Homo sapiens: one gene and its partner. Each later gene encodes a partner of the first gene's protein in a complex. Each region holds a gene or a part of one and is shown in the gene's direction. Other genes may lie near its edges.

Region 1 (8,128 bases):
GCTGAGGCAGGAGAATCGCTTGAATCCGGGAGGTGGAGGTTGCAGTGAGCTGAGATCACGCCACTGCACTCCAGCCTGGGCGACAGAGCAAGACTTGGTCTCAAAAAAAAAAAAAGAAAAGAAAAGAACAAGGGTGGTGGGAACTCAGAAATAACCTGGAGAACTTGGGGAAGATGTCATAGGTGGGACTTCAAGGACAGGTGGGCTTTCCCAACAAGGAAGGGCAGGCTGGGTGAAGAGCCCTGAGGACCAAGACTGGAAGGCAGAGAGGATGTGACATCAGGTGGGATGGCTGGGGACAGCCAGGTATTCACACCACAGTTAGGATCTTGTCTTGCATCTCCATGGACCATGAACAAGACTTGTTTGTACAGAGGCTGTAAACTGCTGGCTATAGTAACAGAGGCTAGAGAAGCAGCAAGAGCGTGAGCCAGCTTACATGTACATGGCTGTGCTATTATCTGGGCAATGGTGCCCTGAACAGGGGGTGCGGCGCCTGTGGTCCCATTACAAGTGGCTCACACTTCTAATCCCAACACTTTGGGAGGCTGAAGTGGGAGGATCACTTTGGCCCAGGAGTTTGAGGCTGCAGTGAGCTATGATTGTGCCACTGCACTCCAGGCTGGGTGACACAGCGAGACCCTGTCTCTAAACACAGGAGAAATCAGAATCTGTGGACGTCCTTGCATTTATTGGACACTCTAGTGTTTGGATGTTTTGCATTGTGCAGTCAGGGTTTGTCTTTTCAGCGGTTAGGCTTCTAGAGGTGTTATTAAGCCCTGGAGGAGGGCAGAAATGAGATGCAGATGCCTGTTGAGGGGCAATTCATGGCTGGGGAAGGAGGGATGTTGGGTGAAGGAGAGAATTCACTCATAATCTTCCCACCCGCTCAGATCCAGCTCAGAGGAAAGTCCCTGAAACCGCAGGAGACAACTCTGATGTTTTCAGAGCATGGGGAGAGCACGGTGGGGTGATCTGGAGACACGGCCAGCAGAGACTTGGAGCCAAGATTCCTGGATCCCCAACAAATCACTGAATTCAGGCCAGGCACAGTGGCTCATGCCCGTAGTCTCAGCACTTTGGGAGGCCGTGGTGGAAGGGTCGCTTGAGCCCAGGTGCTCGAGACCAGCCTGGGGAATATAGTGAGACCTCATCTTTACAACAGCAAAAAGAAGAAGAAAGAAAGAAAGCACTGAGTTTGGCCCTCAATTTTACAGGTAGTGAGACAGATCGCCAGTAAGACAGAGAGACAGAGATCTCCCCAGTGTTACTCATGGAATTAGCAGCAGAGCAAGGATCAATTCCGGTCTTCACCTGAGCCAGGGTCCCCGGAGCCAGGAGGTCCCAAGCCAGAGGCGAGGGCGGAGCTGACACTTCCTATCCAACCTCCTCCACAGCACCCCACCCGCTCCTCTTAGTCTCATGCCCCTTTCTTCAAGCATCCCCCAAGTCTCCAGGTACCCAGTGTGGGGGTTCAGAGATGCTAGGACACAGTCTTGCCTCAATGGCCTACGGAGGAATAGGGGGAGAAGCCAGACAGGCATATAGGGGTAAGTAATGATCCTGTCAGCCTCTGTACCAAGGGCCTCAAAAGACGGTTAACTGCCACCTGAGAGCTGGCCACGGTGGCTCACGCCTGTAATACCAGCACTTTGGGAGGCTGAGGCAGGTGGATCACTTGTGGTCAGGAGTTCAAGACCAGCCTGGCCAACATGGTGAAACCCCATCTCTACTAAAAATACAAAAATTAGTCGGGCATGGTGTTACACGCCTGTAATCCCGGCTACTTGGGAGGCTGAGGCAGGAGAATCGCTTGAGCCCGGGAGGCGGAGGTTGCAGTGAGCTGAGATCATGCCACTGCACTCCAGTCTGGGTGACAGACTGAGACTGGCTCAAAAAAAAAAAAAAAAAAGAGGGCCACTTGGGGATGGCTCTCTGAAGCAGGGCAGAGCCCCTCCAAAGGAGGGAGAGTGGGGTGAGCATCAGAACCCCCTTTCCTAACCTGGCAGGGATGGGCAGAGAGAATGCACATCCTACAGAGGGCAGCAGGGAGGATGGAGCAGAACAGCTGGGGCTCCTGGGAATGTGATGCGAACATTTGGCAGAGACAGAAGATACCCGGCCAAGGGAGGTGGGTGGAAGGGCTGGCCTGTGAGCAGCCTTGGATAATCACTTTCCTCCCACAGCCAGTGGCTGGGGCCCTCAGGGCACTGCCATTGTGATCCTAGGTGCTGTGTGATCCTCCTGTGGGCTGGAAGAAAGTGCTGCATGTCAACCTTTTCCAAGGCTGCCACACATGGGAAACCACCTCCTCCGCTTTCCCTAACATGACCACACACAGGATACCTGTCAGAAAGCCAGCAGAGCTTAGCATGTGCCTACAACTCTTTCCTGTCCCCACCCACTAGGGACATCCTTGGGGGAAATCTGGAAATCTACTAGACCAGGCTTTGCTGCTGCCCCTCAGAGATGCTTGGGTGTGTTTTTGCTCTCCTGTGCCTCTGAACCCATCTTTGAGGCTGTTAGTTAAACGCTCCAGTGAGGTGTCAGGTGTGAATGCCTCAGTCTGGTTTCTGTCCTCAAGGTGAGAAAAGAGGCTTCAGAAGCAGAAAGGCCATGTACAGTGGCTCACACTTGTAATCCCAAAACTTTGGGAGGCTGAAGCAGATTTCATCTCTACAAAAAAAAAAAAATTAGCCAGGTTTGGTGGCATGAGCCTGTAGTCCCAGCTACTAGGGAGGCTGAGGTGGGAGGATCGCTTTGGCCCAGGAGTTTGAGGCTGCAGTGAGCTATGACCGTGCCTCTGCACTCCAGCCTGGGTGACAGAGCGAGACCCTGTCTCTAAAAATATATAAATAGGCTGGGCACGGTGGCGCATGCCTGGAATCCCAGCACTTTGAGAGGCTGAGGTGGGCAAATCGCTTTAAGGTCAGGAGTTTGAGACCAGCCTGGCCAGCATGGAGAAACCTCGTCTCTACTAAAAATACAAAAATTAGCTGGGCATGGTGGCGGGCACTTGTAATCCCGGCTACTCAGGAGGCTAAGGCAGGAGAATCGCTTGAACCAGGGAGGCAGAGGTTGCAGTGAGCCGAGATCGTGCCATTGCACTCCAGCCTGGGTGACAGAGTGAGCCTCCGTCTCAAAACAATAAATAAATAGAAGTATATAGATAAATAAAAATACAAAGAAGCAGGAACAAAAGCTGGACCTCAGTGTCAGTGAGAGAAGGGGCTCAGAGCTCCTGGGTAGATGCCTGCCTAGGGGATGTCCACCTTCCAGTGAGCCACCCATCCCTACCAGTAACAGTCCCTCGAGGCTCCCCTTGGGCCTCTCTGTGCAGGTGAAGTAATGATCACAATTTTTTTAATATATATTTTTTCTTAAGTATTTTATTTTGTTTTTGAAACAGGATTTCACTGTTGCCCAGGGTGGAGTGCAGTAGGGCGCGATCTCGGCTCACTGCAACCTCCACCTCTTGGGCTCATGTGATTCTTCCACCTCAGCCTCCCGAGTAGCTGGGATTATAAGCCAAGCACGCATCGTCACATCCGGTAATTTTTGTATTTTTAGTAGAGAAGGGGTTTCTCCATGTTAGCCAGGCTGGTTTCGAACTCCTGGCCTCAAGTGACCCACCCACCATGGCCTCCCAAAGTGCTAGGATTGAAGGCGAGAGCCACCGCGCCCGGCCACCGTGTTGGCCACCATGTTAACTAGAGGTGTTAGCAACCTCCTGTGGGCCAGGCCCTTCAGGGGCATTACCTTGGGCTTACCACATCAGGCCCCTGAGAGTTGGGGGCTTCTACCTATGTGGAGGACCCAGAAGAGCTAATATGGGGGGCGGGGGTTGGAGGTGAAGGGCAGGAGTTAGGTGAGGGGAGATGGTGATCTCTGGCCTCACAGGAGGGTGCCCCTGAAAGAACAAACCCCAGGTCCTGAGGCGCTTTCAGGCTCAGGTGTGATAGGGGACCCTTTTGTTGTGGAGACAGGGTCTCACTCTGTCATCCAGGCTGGAGTGCAGTGGCGCGATCTCCGCTCACTGCAGCCTCAACCTCTTGGTCTCAAGCGATTCTCCCACTTCAGCCTTCGGAGTAGCTAGGACTACATGCACACGCCACCATGCCTGGATAATTTTTGTATGTTTGGTAGAGACAGGGTTTTGCCATATTGTCGAACTCCTGGGCTCAAGGAATCCTCCCACCTCAGCCTCCCCAGTAGCTGGTATTACAGGCTTTCTCCACTATGTCCGGCTAATTTTTGCATTTTTTTGGTAGAGATGGGGGTCTTGCCATATTGCTCAGGCTGGTCTCGAACTCCTGACCTCAAGCCATCCTCCCGCCTTGGCCTCCTAAAGTGCTAGGATTACAGGCAAGAGCCCCTGGCGTCCGGCCTGACCTTTCTTAATATCCCTTTGGAGCAAAGTAGGGGCGGCTCTATCAGGACTCCAAGGAAAGACGGGAAGGGAGATGGGGCCAACCCGCCAGAGCTCCAGAGCACCGGGTTCTCACCTGGCGTAAGGATTATGCTAATACAAGCCCCGCCCCGTCCCAGGCCCCGCCCACCCGATCGGCCTATGGTGTGGGGGCGGGGCTATGTTAATGAGGCCCGGCTGGCCAAGAGCTGTTCCCCGCGCTGCGCGGAGCAGGGACCAGGCGGTTGCGGCGGCGACAGCCATGGCCGGCGCGCTGGCAGGTCTGGCCGCGGGCTTGCAGGTCCCGCGGGTCGCGCCCAGCCCAGACTCGGACTCGGACACAGACTCGGAGGACCCGAGTCTCCGGCGCAGCGCGGGCGGCTTGCTCCGCTCGCAGGTCATCCACAGCGGTCACTTCATGGTGTCGTCGCCGCACAGCGACTCGCTGCCCCGGCGGCGCGACCAGGAGGGGTCCGTGGGGCCCTCCGACTTCGGGCCGCGCAGTATCGACCCCACACTCACACGCCTCTTCGAGTGCTTGAGCCTGGCCTACAGGTGAGGGCGGTTCCGGGCCCTGACGGCCTTGGCTTCCAGGTGGGGATGGGGGGGGGGTCCGGGGCAGGACTGCGCGCTGGGGCCCTCAACACCCCACCCGAGCCCGGTCCTGCGGCTCCCGGAGGCTCCGATCACGCCCTGGACACCCCCTTTCTCCCAGCCCCGAGGTCCTCCTACAGCGGCCCAGCCCGCTGGCCCCTGACGGACCCACGCATTTCTGATTCCCATTCCTCCCCCATTCCCTCTTCCCCGAAGCGCAGACCGCCTGCGCCCCACCTCTACCTGGACCTCTGGTCCCCTCTCTCTGGTCCCAGCCCCTCCGTCCCTACAAAAATGCCAGGCGCCCCTGGTCCCTAGGCCACCCGCGCCCATCCCCACTCTCCACTCTGGAGCCACTCCACCCGACCCCCTGCAGGCCTCGGCCTTCTCCCCAGCAGCCCCGGCCCAAGCCCGCCCTATTCCTGGACCCTGAGATACTCCCAGCGCCCCTGATTGTCCCAGTTCATAACCAAAGTGGACTGGAACTGGCCCACTCTCACGTCCACCTCCCCGCAATTGCTGAGACACCTCTTCTTGATCTGCTACATTAAGGGTGGCGGGAGGAGGATGTCCCAGAAATGTCCAAGAGGCGCAGCTCGCAGAGGTTACGCCGGTGCCCGGGAGGCCTGGGTTCGCCTACCCACGTCGCCACACTAGGCTGAGCGCCCGTCGCTGCCTGGGACCCCCGCTTAGTGCCACCGAGAGCGCACAGGCCGCGCCCCGCTGCCGCTCCACGCCCCGCGTCCCAGAGGAGGGCGCGAACCCGAGGCCTGGCCCAGTGCCCTGGAGCAAAGTTCCCCGGAGTTGAGGGGCCAGTATAAATTATCAACCGAAAACCCGTAGGGGAGAAAGGGGGATCGGCCGGCCTTGATCTTTTCTCTGTGCAAATATTCCTCTTCCTCCGCGGCGCCTCCTCCCCTTCTGAGAACCGCTGGCTACAGATCGGCACCTGCCGCCCTGCGGGGGAGCAGGAGCTGGGGTGGGGACTGTGAGGGGAGTGTTGCCTGCCCCCAACCGCAGCCGCCCAGCTGCGACCCCATTGGCTGGAGGCGGAGTAACCTTGGCCCACAAGCTCTGGCCCCTGGCCCAGGTCATGTTGCAACCCGATCGGCCAGGGCGTCGGACCCGTGTGGAAAGTTCAAATTCCCGTCCCTTCTCCCTCCCTCCCCAAATGTCACGCGACTGCCTGGGACAGGGCATCTAAGGTCCTGGTACACCGGATGCCGGCACTCCTCCTCCTAAGGGTCTCCCATTTCCCACCCAACCCCAACTTTGGCTGCTCATTATATACTACACATCACTCTATTTGGGAGGGGGCCTCACTTCCAACCCTGACGATGGGTGACCAAAGAGGAGAGGTTCTGGGGAGCTGGCAAGGTAAGGGACAGAGCGCACCCCCAAAATTGCCCCCCCACCCAGAGGCTGACTCAAGGCTGATGTAACCCCAGTCAGAGATAGCTGGGGTAGAGAGGACTGTGTTTTCTTCCCAAATACCCAAATATTAATAGTAAATCTCTGGCTGGGCACAGTGGCTCCTGCCTGTAAGCCCAGCACTTTAGGAGGCCAAGGTTCTCATCCAAGGATTGCTTGAGCCCAGGAGTTGGAGACCAGCCTGGGCAACATACTGAGAACCTGTCTCTACCAAAAAAAAAAAAATTTTTTTTTTTTTTTGAGACAGAGTTTTGCTCTTGTTGCCCAGGCTGGAGTGCAGTGGTGCCATCTCAGCTCACTGCAACCTCTGCCTTCCGGGTTCAAGAGAATCTCCTGCCTCAGCCTCCTGAGTAGCTGGGATTACAGGCGCCCACCACCTCCAGCTAATTTTTTGTATTTTTAGTAGAGACGAGATTTCACCATGTTGGCCAGGCTGGTCTCAAACTCCTGACCTCAGGTGATCCACCTGCCTTGGCCTCCCCAAGTGCTGGGATTACAGGCATGAGCCAACATGCCTGGCCAAAAAAAATTTTCTTTAATCAGCCAGGTGTGATGGCACATTCCTAGTACCAGCTACTGGGGAGTCTGAGGTGGGAGGATCACTTCAGCCCAGGAGGTTGAGGCTCCAGTAAGACATGATGGTGCCACTGCACTCCACCCTGGGTGATAGAGTGAGACCTTGTTGGAAGGAAGGGAGGGAGGGAGGGAGGGAGATGGGGGGAGGAAGGAAGGAAGGGAGGGAGGGAGATGGAAGGAGGGAGGGAGATAAAGGAGGGAGGGAGATGGAGAGAGGGAGATGGAGAGAGGGAGATGGAGGGAGGGAGGGAGATAGAGGGAAATGGAGGGAGGGAGATGGAGGAGGGAGGGAGAAGGAGGGAGGGAGGGAGATGGAGGGAGGGAGACGGAGGGAGATGGAGGGAGGGAGAGGGAAGGAGATGGAGGGAGGGAGGAAGGGAGAGAGGGAGGAAGGGAGGGAGGGAGGGAGATGGAGGGAGGGAGGGAGCTGGAGAGAGATGGAGGGAGGGAGGGAGATGGAGGGAGGGAGGGAGATGGAGGGAGATGGAGGGTTGGCTCGGTACCAGGAGAGCTTCTAGATTTCCCCATTTGGTAGTGGAAAAGCCCTGAGGCTTGAACTGGGACAGTGTTTTCATCCTCAAAGACCCCCAGTTCCAGGGGTCCCCTGGAGGGGAGCAGATTACAGGAGCTGAGTGTCCCAGGGGAGTGACTATATGGGAAGAGACAGTAAGGCAGAGAGTTCAGAAGGTGGTGGGAAGAACAGCGAGCTTGACCAGGGACCCACCTGAATCAGGGACCAGCCTGACCCAGAGACCAGCCTGCAGAGGCCTGGCAAGGTTTCACCCTCTGCAGGTTAGCGTGGGCAGAGGGAGGATCGAGGAGGCCGTCTTCCATGGCTCCGTGGGTGGAAGCCCCAGGGAGGTAGTTTCTGGAAGCTTCAAGGAAGCACTTGTTCATGGTCAGAGCTGGCTAGCTTTAGGAAGAGTGGCCTTGAGGGTGCAGGGGAGCAAACAGGACCTGGTTAGGGGGCAATCTAAAAGGAATTCCTGAAAGGTGGGAGGTGGGCAGCTGAACTTGGGGTTTTCTCAACCCCCTCTCTAAGTCTCAGAGTTTTCTTCTCCTTCTTATTATTTATTTATTTATTTATTTATTTATTTATTTTTGGAGACAGAGTCTCAC
Region 2 (6,592 bases), on another chromosome or scaffold:
AATCATATTGTCTTTCCCGCACATCCTGAGCCATTGGGAACTTTCTTTTTCTTCCAGGTGAAATCAGGTAAAAATGAACTCAGCGAGGGCTGCTTTGAAGGGAAAAGGAATTCACACTTGGGGACCTACCACCTTCCCTGCTGGCTGCCTTTCTAAATTACTGCCCATGACTCCTTTCTTTTGAAAACCAGTATAAAGCTTGTCAGCCATCAGGCAGCACCCCTTATCCCTAACCTATTAGGAGTTACACACTGTCTGTCTACAAAGAATATTAAAACGACTGCCGCCCCCTGCATCTTCTCACTTTGGTTGATTAAATCCCCTTATAACTAAGCTTTGCATTGAGCTTCTCTTTTTATTAGACTCATGGCGTAAGAGTGTCATGACTAAATTTGTTGCCTGTTGGTAATTTGGGGGTTTGTTAATGGTGCACTAATTCCTGAATGTTAGGTACATCTGGTATTCAGATGAAGTATGTCATGCATTCCAAGGGCAAGAAAGTTCCATAATTCATGAAATGTAGACCAACTTTTAAGAGCATCTGAAAGAATGTGAAGAAGAGCTTGGTACTTACTGCCTCTTAACCAGTTTTTCAGGATGCCACATTCTAAAACAACTCTTCGAAAATATTGCTCTGTATACGAAGCTTGGACTCCTTCAGAACTACTTTTGTTGTAAGCATAAATGTTTAAAGGAATTTATTATTAATAGTATTAGCTACTCTTTGAGTGCTTACTACGTGCCAGGCAACGTGTTAAGCGCTTTATGTATGTCAACTTATTTATCATTATAACTACCCTAGAAGATGGCTATACCCTAGAAGATGACCCTTCGTATAGCTGAGGAAAGTGAGGCTCAAAGTGATTAGGTAATTTGTCCAGAGTCATACAGATAATAAGTGGCAGAAGAGGGATTTCTACCCAGGTCAGATTGACTTTAAACTTAGTTCTTGGCAGTTTTGCTCTATTATCACCTTTTTCCTCCTAAGGAAAGATATTTTTTCCCCTTTAATTATAGAAGTAATACCAGTTTGTGGGTTTAAAAATGGTGGGGGGAACAAGTCAGAAGAATATAAATAAGAAAGTAAAAATCACTTCTAATCTTACCACCCAGAGAACCATTATTAACATACTCCTTCCAGGCTTTTCCCTTATATATTTGTGAGCATGTACACAAATGTATCTTAATGTTAAAATAGGATTCTTGTGGTATTTATAATCTGCTTTTTTTCCACTCAGATTTCTTTTGAGAGCCTTTCCATTATCTGTTTAGCTCTGCATCATTTTAAAGGCCTACAAAACATTTCATTATATGGCTATACTTTAATTATCCCCTATGGATGGTCAAAGTGATTTTTAACAGAAGAATACAGGCATCTGCTGTTATGACCTGGGCTAAACAACATTTAGTAGCTTGGATGAAAAATTGGTGTTTTTTTAATCTTCCAAAAAATTATTTAGAAGCAGTAGTGTATATCTTGAATCTCAAACATAGTTTTAACATCTCGTGAATAATTCTAAATTCTTAACAATGTTCATTTTTTAGGAGCTGTTGGACAAATATCTTATTCCCAATGCTACACAACCAGAAAGTAAGGTGTTCTACTTGAAAATGAAAGGAGATTATTTTAGGTATCTTTCTGAAGTGGCATCTGGAGACAACAAACAAAGTAAGTAATATCTTTAAAAAGAAATTCGACCAGTAATGGAGCCAGTCTTCTTTCACAGGGACTTTTTAACGATTTTTGCTTTGTTCGCCATAGACACCAATGTCACAGTACTAAGAATTTAAAAGACCACAGCATTGTGACGAACGGGGTCATGGGCGGGCAAATAAAAATTTATCTGACAGGGAAGTATGGAGGGCATTACAAACCTGGTGCGCAGTGTATTTAAAAAGATCTTATCTTGAGTATTATTTGTTAGCTCTCTTTTTAGCAGTGAACTTTTTATACTTGGTGGTACGAAACTACCCTAGTGATGCATTGCATTTATCACATGTATTACCGTGATGGTGGTAATCTTAACCACACTTTATTAAGTGCTTCTGTGCCAAGTACTTCCGAGTCTCACTTACTCTTCACACAGCCTTACGAGTTAGGTGGCAGGCTGCCCATTTTTCATATAAACTGAGGTTTATGGAGGTTTCTACTTGCCCCAAGCCACAGACCTAGGGAGTAAGAGTTGGGAATTAAAGTTTGGATCTATCGACTCTAAAGCCTGTGATGTTTGCACTAGAATGTATGGTTTTTCACATTCTATATTGTTAAAGGTTATAGCTGTATTTAACTGCTTTAGTAGACTTTGTCATAATTGTTTTCCCCCAAAGCATTTAATATACAACTTGGTTTAGAATAAATATCTAACAAATGTATAATTGAATGGCAGAGACACTGACACTTCATTTGATAGGTCATTGCTCCTGCCCAGTTTGGGACTGAGAAAATAATTTGATAGTTGGTCCAATGTGTGATACCTATGAAAGAACCGAGCCTTTAATATTTTCATCTTTATGTTACAGCCACTGTGTCGAACTCCCAGCAGGCTTACCAGGAAGCATTTGAAATTAGTAAGAAAGAAATGCAGCCTACACACCCAATTCGTCTTGGTCTGGCACTAAATTTCTCAGTCTTTTACTATGAGATTCTAAACTCTCCTGAAAAGGCCTGTAGCCTGGCAAAAACGGTGAGAAAGACCCTTTGTGATATCTAACCATAGCAAAACAGTGCTTGTGTTATTAACTTCATTTTATTCCTGAACATACTCATTGTCTTGGACTTTTTTTGAAAGATTTTCTGGGGGTGGGAGTGTATCTTTTATGAGATAAATACAGATCTGTTACTTTTTTAATTCATTCTCAATACCTTCTGCTGACTTTGTTTGATTACTGTTTTTTGCGGGTGGTTGTAGAAAGTTCCAGGTGAATGTAGTTAGTTGTTTCTTACCAAGCTTTGGGCCTTGGTTATACATTGTCATTCTCATGCCAAGATTTGAGGTTATAGTTGTATAAAAGAAATACACAGCACATTCTTGTTGTGTGTTGGATTACCTTCCATATTCTTCCTTTGGCCTTCTCTACATATTTTTTATAGTCCCTCAACATGCACACAACTTTTTAAAAACATTTTTATTCGGGAAAGGTGCCTTAAAGTTCCGTCACTTAAATCAGATTTAGTGATGTGAGTTTCCAGACATTTTGAGTTTTAGTTTAAATAAATAAATAATTTTAAATAGAAGATTGCTAGAAAAGTCTTTGGTAATTAAAAAATCACACGCGTTTGCCCAGAATGACTGTGCTAGGGTTAGCAGTAATACTGCTTAGTTATTAGGTACAGCAAAGTTCTTACCTTGGAGTTTCTGTCATTGTTGGTTGGTGCTTTGTAAATATGCCTTATACTTCTGCTGGAAACAGCTAACAGACAGGGTAATAATAGCCTAGGTTCCCCCAAAGTACTGTACAAGAAGATAAGTTATATTCACCTAGCGGGAAAAAAAGTGGGCTAAACTAGCTCCAGAGAACTTGTGAATTCTTTGCTAAAGGCTCTTTGTTTTAGGCATTTGATGAAGCAATTGCTGAATTGGATACGCTGAATGAAGAGTCTTATAAAGACAGCACTCTGATCATGCAGTTACTTAGGGACAATCTCACTGTAAGTACTACTTCCACAGGGTTTATAGTCTCTTTCCTATTCACCTACTTAATAATTCACTGTTATCTTCAAGAGGGGATTTGTACCATTAAATGTAGTTACAGTTTTAAGTTGTTAAATTTGTTATAAATGACTGCTGAAGTTTTGACCTTTGCAATCATCCCTGTCTGCAGTGACACAGGAATAATTTTAAACTGTCGAGTGAGATAAGATTATACATACTGGGCCACTTACCTAGGGAACTTTTAGTAGCCCTGCTTTGATTATACTTCCTTTCTCTTGCAGCTGTGGACATCGGAAAACCAGGGAGACGAAGGAGACGCTGGGGAGGGAGAGAACTAATGTTTCTCGTGCTTTGTGATCTGTTCAGTGTCACTCTGTACCCTCAACATATATCCCTTGTGCGATAAAAAAAAAAAAAAAAAAAAAAAGAGAATCGTACGTCGACTTTCGATTTTTCACAGCCTCAGCCTAGGAAAAATGGTTCATGGGATAAACAGCTGGTATTTGTATCTAAAACTCAGATTGGTCACATAAATGCCACGGCATTCCGAAGTTTTGATTTTGATTAACATTGACAGGATTACTGTGTGTTTAATTTTTTAAAAACTGAACACTGTGATTATGGGGTTTTGTAATTTAGCAGAACTCTTACTGGTAGAAAAAATAGACCTGAATTATGTGTAACTTTTTGGAAGGTTTAATCTGATATCAAAATAATCATTGAAATACAATTCCATTGTAAAGTTGTACAGAAAGTTATAGAGATTATATTGTGATGCTGGAACTTGGAGTGAGACACACATCATTTGGCATTTGAGTTGAATGGTAATTCACAGTAATGCTGCCGTTGTTCGGGACTTAAAGACACTTGACCTGTTTGGGCTGTTGCCACTTAAAAGTTCATGACCACAAATGTCCACAGTGTCTTCCTCTGAGGAAACTCGAATCCTGAAATGGAAATTCTTTGTGGCAGATAACTGGCTTATGACACCTTGAAAAGTTCAAGTGCTCATATAACACACCACACTGAACCCCCTTTCCTACAGCAATATGTTCACTATGTTACCAATTTGCAACTTGTGCTTCAATAGTGGAATCTACTTTCATTGTTAACACTGAGCTAAAGAAAAAAAGCCGTGTGTTTTATGAATGACCTTATCTGTTTCCTGGATAATACCTTTAAGAATAATGTCCTGAGTCAGGCGTGGTGGTGCGTGCATCTAGTCCCAACTATTTGGGAGGCTGAGGCAGGAGGATCGCTTGAGCCCAGGAGTTTAAAGCTGCAGTGCCCTGTGGTTGCACCTGTGAATAACTGCACTCCAGCCTGGGCAACATAGCGAGACCTCATCTCCAAAAAAGAAAACAAAAAACAAAAAAAGGAATGATGTTCTGTAGAGATGGCCTTTCACTTGAGGAGTACTCAGTTTTCAGGTTCTTCCTAGCTCGGGGCTTTTAAATTTTGAAATCTAAACATTCTTTCCCACCATCCTTTTTGACTGTTGACCTTGGTTTTCTCTTCTAAGTTTCTGTCCCTCTGCTTCCTTACTTTTTTTCCTTTTTGAATTCTATCTTTATCTGTCTTTTGTTCACTTTTTAATGCTATATATGGGCAGGGGTGAGAGACATTACTGAGCACCTTGGTGAGCAAGCCTGGCTTTAAAGATTGGAGAAGAGCTTCTGGCACCAGAACCCTGTCTTCCTCCAGTTCTCAACACGGTGTTGCTCTTCAGTCATACCGGAATCTGAATCAAAAAAGTATTTTTAAATATCCATGATTTCTCCCTGTATTGAGGCTAGCCCTGATCATGCTTTTTGTGCCTGTCACCAGGTCTCCCAAGTGCACTCATCCAGGTCAGTGCTCAGATGTGTTTAAGGAGACCCTATATTCAGGGAAGTTGCGTGAACACTGCAGTGGGGAGAATTGAGAATAGTCAGGCCTATCAGTCTCACAGAATCACCCCTCTACCTTTGATATTCCACTTAGCTGTAGAGTCCATCTGTTTGTCCATCTGCTGAAATGAGAAAAGAAAAATTTATGCACTGATTTAAAACAAACCAAAAAAAAAGAAAAAAACAAAAAAAAAAATCCCTCCTTTCTAGCTGAACAAAAATGTGCAGTTAATACTTGGCGCTTGAAAATGCAGTAGTGAATGTGGAACCAAGCCTGTCTGTATATCTGGTAGCTCTTTTCTTGCTTTGTTTTTTCTTACCAGTATTCTGCCTAACGTTTGCTTCTGTGATGGTTATATTGCCTAGCAAGCACACCCGTGGTTGTGAAAATAGTATAGCAAAAAAGAAAAATCCCCGGTTATTGATGTACTAGATTTGTGTATGTCTTTTAAACAGTTCTAGTTTCACCTTACACAGAATAATCAGGAAAAGTGTAAAAATTCAAAAGTGAAATAAAAATTTTATCAGTTAGTTGCCTGTGAATTGATGTGTCACCACCATCTCTGTTGTTACCAGACCTAGCTAACTATTCTGATCACACTTATTTTTAACTCTGTTTTCTTTAAAAATAGGCAAACAGTTTTATTTCATTATTTAGGACCAGAAGTCAAGGTGTTATCCAGGGGAAGAAATTACCATTAATTAAACAGCCTCTTTACACCCGTTACTTGATACCTCTCTACCTTCCACAACAAACCATGCAGGTATTAGGTCCTCTTTAGTGACTTCTAAGATTTGGTATGGACAGTTATTTTGCATTGTATTCGAGCCCACCATCCCTTCCCCATTTTTTAACTCTGAGATACAACCAAGCCAGTGAAATAGGTAACCTATGGTTGCATAAGTCTTGGTCATCACCAAGCTGGCGTCTCACCTGTCCTCACACTGTATGGTGGCCTGCAGAGCTGGTTCCTCACAGGATTTGCCCCTTCTGAAAACATCCACATTACCACAAGGAGAGAAAAATATCAGGATAGAGGGGTCTTTTTT

What was found.
Region 2: the proteins of MLXIPL (region 1) and YWHAB are in contact, whole or in part, in a crystal structure (PDB 6YGJ), measured with the Homo sapiens proteins. Residues at the interface, in NP_116569.1 of Homo sapiens: Asp118, Ile120, Arg121, Asn124, Ala125, Trp127, Arg128, Ala129, Trp130, Tyr131, Ile132, Tyr134; in NP_003395.1 of Homo sapiens: Gly55, Arg58, Ser59, Trp61, Arg62, Ser65, Ser66, Gln69, Lys70, Arg129, Val178, Tyr181, Glu182, Asn185, Leu218, Gln221, Leu222, Asp225, Asn226, Leu229, Trp230.

Annotation. Positions count from the first base shown.
Region 1 is NC_000007.14:73,621,035-73,629,162, reverse strand, and holds the start of MLXIPL (carbohydrate-responsive element-binding protein), read left to right. Parts: upstream 1-4,640; 5' UTR 4,641-4,670; coding exon 4,671-4,963; intron 4,964-5,098; exon of another isoform or gene 5,099-6,379; intron 6,380-8,128. UniProt on the Homo sapiens protein: Binds DNA as a heterodimer with MLX/TCFL4 and activates transcription. Binds to the canonical E box sequence 5'-CACGTG-3'. Plays a role in transcriptional activation of glycolytic target genes. Involved in glucose-responsive gene regulation.
Region 2 is NC_000020.11:44,902,448-44,909,039, forward strand, and holds the end of YWHAB (14-3-3 protein beta/alpha), read left to right. Parts: intron 1-450; coding exon of another isoform or gene 451-471; exon of another isoform or gene 472-1,545; coding exon 1,546-1,669; intron 1,670-2,520; coding exon 2,521-2,684; intron 2,685-3,553; coding exon 3,554-3,649; intron 3,650-3,934; coding exon 3,935-3,991; 3' UTR 3,992-6,085; downstream 6,086-6,592. UniProt on the Homo sapiens protein: Adapter protein implicated in the regulation of a large spectrum of both general and specialized signaling pathways. Binds to a large number of partners, usually by recognition of a phosphoserine or phosphothreonine motif.